2 separate regions of the Homo sapiens genome follow, and region 2 is linked to region 1. Evidence: fine-mapped expression QTL. A gene starts in region 1. The other region holds a variant in brackets. All regions are shown on one strand. Distances are between the middles of the regions. Region 1 holds the start of SINHCAF (SIN3-HDAC complex associated factor). Region 2 has its middle 54 kb from the start of FLJ13224.

Region 1 (2,809 bases):
ACAGGAATAGTATGTTACAGAACCTAAAGAAAAATAAAGAAGTATTAGTTGAGGAGTTCAGAAGTGGGTTTATACTGTATGTACTAGGAATTGCCTGTTGAATTAAATTAACATTTCAGAAGTAACTATTTAAATCTGTATTGTTGACACTGCAGTGAAAGCAGCGAAACGTGTCAGCAGATGATTAAGTTTTATGGTTGATTTTCACACTTTTGTAACTTGGGACCAATATCAAGTTTCTGGGAAAAACATCCTTCCTCTCTCCCCACCCTCTATCATTAACCCCGGGTTTCTGCCTGTTGGTGTTAAGTGTGTCCTTGGGACAAAGGCGAATCAATCATTCGGTTTTCATTTTCCTCTTATCAATCTGAGAAGAGTTACTTCAGTTTTTTTCTTCCGGAGTCTAGAAAGCGCTTAGATTGTTGAATTATTACATATTCTGCATTGAAAAGTCTGTACGTCACTCGTTATTTTTTCCATTCCCAAGACCACCAGTTACTGGAATTATTTCTGGGTGAGTGGAACACCCTTTACAAGCTGCTAGAGGAGGTATGCCTGTCCCTAGGTTATTGGCTTTCCAATGCCTAGTCTTTTAAAGAAAGCGGCACTGTTCCCACGGAAATTAACAATCATTCAATTCGGAGAGACTTGAAATCTTAAGGCCGAAGTGGAGGAAAAAACTGGATTGTTATGGGTTGGGTTACTATTTGAGAAGGGCAAGCGGGAGTTAGCGAATGGCTAGGGTGTTAAAATGGGACTTTATTAAACGACTCATTACAACTGCACAAAAACTAAACCTTTGCTGGCCCCAGAGGATTTTTTTTTTACAAGCTTCAAAAACCTAACTTCAAACAAAATTTAGGAAACGTGGGATTAGTATAAATTCAGTCTGGGTGCTTACAAGACCACCTCCTCTGTCACCGACAGTGGGGACAGGTGTGAGAATTTTGCAAAAGCAGCTTTCAGAACAATTTTTCAGCGCTCAATGGTGCCCCTAACAACTTCGGGGGCGGAAAACACGCCAAGCAGCGCAGCCCTCCCCTCAGTTGCTAACCTTTCCCTTTCCCACCTCGCCTCTCCCTCTCCGCCGCGGCCTGCAGCCGGGGGGGGGGGCGTTTGTTTATGTGACGTCCGCCGTAGTAAGCAGTCCCCGCCCCCGTTTCCCTCTGGCCGCCGCGTTTCCCGCGCCGCGGAGCTTCTCCCCTTAAAAGGACAATAGAGGCCTCGGGAGCGCGCGCGGTCGCCGGGACTTCTCCCCCTCCCAGCCCGCAACGTGCGCGCGCCCGTATGCAAATAAGTTCGATTCAAGAGAATTTTGTGCCGGGAGCCGCGCGTGCGCAGAGGGAAAGCGGAATCTACACCTTCCCGGCCAGCGGTAGCAACTGCAGAACTGCAGGAGACTATCTTTCTAGACAAGGCAGTTGAGGAGGAGGGAGCGCTTGAGGGGGACTGGCCTGGCGTGCACTCCGCACCTCGGGGACATTATTGCGCGTGGAACGGCTGCTTTTGGAAGGTGAGTGACTCTCACCATGCTTCTAGTGCAAAACTGTCTCACGAGGCTTTGATTTCAGTGTTTTTTTTTTTCTCTTTTCACCTCCACCCACCTCCCCCCGTCCTTCCACATACACACAGGAAGTTTTGTCTTGGAGGTGGCATTGTTGGGAGCGCTGTTTTCGTGATCTTCAGACCCCAGGTTCTTTGGTACGCTCGTGTTTAGTGTGTATTTATTAATTGGGGAGGGTATTTGAGGCAAACCGAAAGTCTCGGGGCGGGGAAGTGAGTGGAGCCTGGGCATAATTGAGGAGTCGCCGGAGTTGAGGGATCCACGTTGAAGGTGACAATGACTTTTCTCCGCCGCAGTGTTCTCTCGCGGAAAGGAGCCCGGCGGCCGAAAGGCCCGAGAGGAAAGCGACTCGTTGGCCACCGCGCAGCGGCCGGGGTCGGTGCGTCCGCGTGGGCGCGAGGCGCGGGCAGGGTCGGGCGCCGTTGTGAAACCTCGTGGTTTAGTTGACTGCAGCCCTCGGACTAGGGTGGACAATAAACGCCATTCGCTCGGAAACTAAGTTGCCATCCGCTTCCGAGCTGGCGGCCGAGGGTCTTTAAATCGGCCTTTGGGGGTCAGTGCTGGGCTCTGCCGGAGCGCACGCGGCGTGGCGTTGTTTGCTCAACTCCGGAGGGATGCGGATGCGACAATGAGAGCAACACGCGGTCGCTTAAAAACAGCCCGTCTTCCACTCGCCTGCCCTCTTCGGACCGCGCCCAAGAGCCTCTGGTGTCCGGGGTGCTTTCGGAGCCCGAAGTTTTGCTCCCGGTGCGTTCACCTGTAGCGTAGGTGTGGGCGACACCGCGAGGGCTTCCCGTTTATGGGCGGCCGTCCGCGCTGTAAGATGGCCAGGGAAGCCAACTTGGCTGGAGATGGAGGCGGCGGCGTTGTGTACGCCGCGGGAGTCAGTGAACTCCGCAGGGCACTGCTTTTTGTGCTCTACGTGACAGACCACGTGCTTCGGGCTGCGACCCTGGTCCTTGTCCGAATGTCCAGCCCCGCGTGAGCCGTGGGATGCGGCCGCCGTCGGGCAGGTCCGGCCGGCAGGACAATGTGGTTTGCTGATGATGGCGTCTTGCCAGTTTAAAAAGCAGAGTGAAAGTCGCCAACTCTCCGCCCGTGCGGGGCGGATACTCCGGGCGTTTCTCATCAAGGACACTGCAAAACTTTGATTAAATGGGCCTGCTCCCGAGGGGAGGGTCGGGGGGCCAGGCTCCGGACTCTTCGGGGCGCGGGGTCCGGACCCCTACCCAGGGTGATCGTCCA
Region 2 (2,809 bases), 56 kb after region 1:
CAAATGCCATTTTCCTAGAAGACTGCCGTTGCGGATAAAGACATGCAATGTGATTTGCAACCCTTGGATATCACAGACATGGTGGCCACATTTCTAAACTTTTAGGACAGCTGGATTTCTGTCCAGTGTATTTTTGGAGATTGAGTTGATGTCATACCATTGAGGCCAGAAGCTACCAAACCTTTCCTAAAGCCTCCAGTCAACCTGGTTGTGAATGCAGCGTGTTGCCACTGTCTTTAAAGCTGTGATTTCTAAAGTTATATGTAAGACTGGCCCATTGAAGTGTGCAAAGTAAAAATTAGAACTCCTATTTCTGTTGATTTTTCCTCATTTTCTCTCCTGTCCTGTTTGTATATGTTTTATAATTTACATAATATTAGCAGAGTCCTACCTGTGCACAGTTCATAACAAGGAAGCATGCTGGGGCACATATACTTTTTTAAAAAAATAATTGGAAAGAGATAAAAAAGGTTTGGAGAGAGCTGCATACTTCTCTGTGCATTACATTTCAATAAGAAGTTTAGTTTACTTTTTTTTTTTGAGATGGAGCCTGCTCTGTCACAGTGCAGTGGTACGATCTCAGCTCACTACAACCTCCGCCTCCCGGGTTCAAGCGATTCTCCTGCCTCAGCCTCCCAAGCAGCTGGCACTACAGGTGTGCACCACCACACTTGGCTAATTTTTGTACTTTTAGTAGAGATGGCGTTCTACCATGTTGGCAAGGGTGGTCTCAAACTCCTGACCTCAAGTGATCCGCCTGCCTCGGCCTTCCAAAATGTTGGGATCACAGGCATGAGCCACTGCGCCTGGCCAGAAGTTTACTTTTTCAAGTACCTGAAGATCACTAATAATTTTAGAGTGATGGAGGGTTGGAAATGGGGGCGTTTATTTTCAAGTCCAAGAGATCATTTTGGTTGGTGAAATATTACAGAAAATGGCCTATGGACCTTTCCTGGATTTGAGGGAGAAGAAGAAATAATAGTTGCCAGAACTGTTTTCTGTTACACGCTGATCAAACGTTTGTTCCCTCTCCCACAGTGTAATGTTTCCTCCCCCTGCCTTTATCGCATACAGTGGTGTGTTTTTCAGAATGGGATATCCTCCTTCGGGAGTAAAGTTATTGAGCATACCTTGTCATTGGTGGAAAGGAAAAACAAATACAAAAACTGGGCAGTTACCTGGGAGCGTCTAGTTTCTTCCTTTGCCTTCCATTCAGTTGGGTAACTACAATTCTCAGCCTCAAATTATTTTTTCTTA[A/C]TCATGTTGAAAATCCATGGAAAATAGTAAGAATGACCAAACTGGTCTCTTCATTAAGGATGGGTCTCCACATTCGCCGGTTTTACTATTGAGGGCATTGAAATGGGCCATGACAGATAAAGTTACTCACCAGGCTTTTTAAAGAAGGTTGAAAATGGATGGTAGAAAATCAGCAGTTAAATTTAGATTCAGCAGTTGTAAAAATGAAGCTCCACAGCTGCCCTAACATGACAGATAATAAAGAATACAAGAAATACTAGGAAAAGGTTCACCTGGAACAGAATCAAGTCACAATATTGTGGGAGAGATTATCAGTGGATGGAGAAGCCAAGAAAACTTATTTCAGGGAAAACAAATGTGATTCCATAACTTAGCAGTGCAGTAATAGATGTTGCCAAGTACTAGAAGACCTCAAGTGATCTGCCCACCTCAGCCTCCCAAAGTGCTGGGATTACAGGTGTGAGCTACTGCACCCAGCCTAAGATATTTTTTTTTTTTAAAAAGACATCACTTGTAAATCCAGCTCTCCATCCCCATCCCCCAGTTCAGTAACAACCTTGGTCTTTTGTCTTCCATATCAGGGCTCAGCATCTAGGTCCTCCTCTTTTCCGGTAGTTCTTTATGTTTCACTGCCGCATAGGCAGTTTTCCATGTCAGTAGATGGCGGAAGAGTCAAAGAGGTTTGTTTTCTCCCGTCCAGCATTATCAGCCCGATGCAACACTGGCAGGGAGAAGAGATGGGAACTTGAGTGGTTTCATTTGTGTAGCTACAAGGAAAGAAAATTTAGGGGAAGAGGAGGTGATCCATGTTTGGAAAACTAGATTATAAAGGAACATGTATTTTCTTAGATGAACAAGGAATGCTGGCCACAGATGGTTTCTCCAGGTTTGCATGTCTGTGAAGAGCCTTGTACCCACCAGCTCCTTTATGCCATCTCTTCATGTGGAATCTTTAGCAGGAGATGAAACCTGGCTAAAGTGATCTGACAGTTAAGGTCCAAAATGAATCCTCGCAGTGACAGTTCTGCAAAGCACCAGACAAAAGTAATTAAGACAGTAGGAGCAGCAGTTGGAAAAAGTGATGGCAAATGAGTGAGGCAGTTATCCAGTAATTTCTTGTTAATTTTAGTCATTTGCTTACAAAGAAAAATATAATGTTTTGTTAAATACATGCACTCTTACTTCTTTTGTCCTCATTGATGATGGAACTGTGACTGGAATTAGAAATTCAGCTTCTGTGTTTAAAACTGGGCCTGGTGTGGTGGCTCACACCTGTAATCCCAGCACTTTGGGAGGCTAAAGTGGGAGGATTTCTTGAGGCCAGGAGTTTGAGACCAGCCTGGACAACATAGCAAGACCCTGTCTCTACAAAAAATAAAAAAACGTAGTTGAACATAGTGGCATGCACCTGTAGTTCTAGCTACTTGGGAGGTTGAGGTGGGAGGATTGCTTGAGTTCAGGATTTCTAGGCTGCAGTGAACTATGATCGTGCCACTGCACTCCAGCCTTGGAGATGCAGCAAGACTTGAGACTTTGTCTCTTAAAAAAAAAA

The links. PIP is the estimated chance that this variant, and not a neighbour inherited with it, causes the effect.
Region 2: its variant is fine-mapped to the expression of SINHCAF in whole blood (TOPMed, PIP above 0.99).

Annotation. Positions count from the first base shown.
Region 1 is chr12:31,324,728-31,327,536 of GRCh38, reverse strand. SINHCAF (SIN3-HDAC complex associated factor) reads left to right here and starts at 1,387. Exons shown (of 6, transcript NM_001135812.2): 1 at 1,387-1,513. FLJ13224 (a long non-coding RNA gene) reads right to left here. Exons shown (of 1, transcript NR_026806.1): 1 at 1,592-2,809. RefSeq lists an enhancer at 1,367-2,298.
Region 2 is chr12:31,268,924-31,271,732 of GRCh38, reverse strand. No RefSeq gene overlaps it. Among named protein-coding and RNA genes, the nearest start is that of FLJ13224, 54 kb to the left of the region's middle. The variant A/C (reference allele first, on the strand shown) is at 1,258.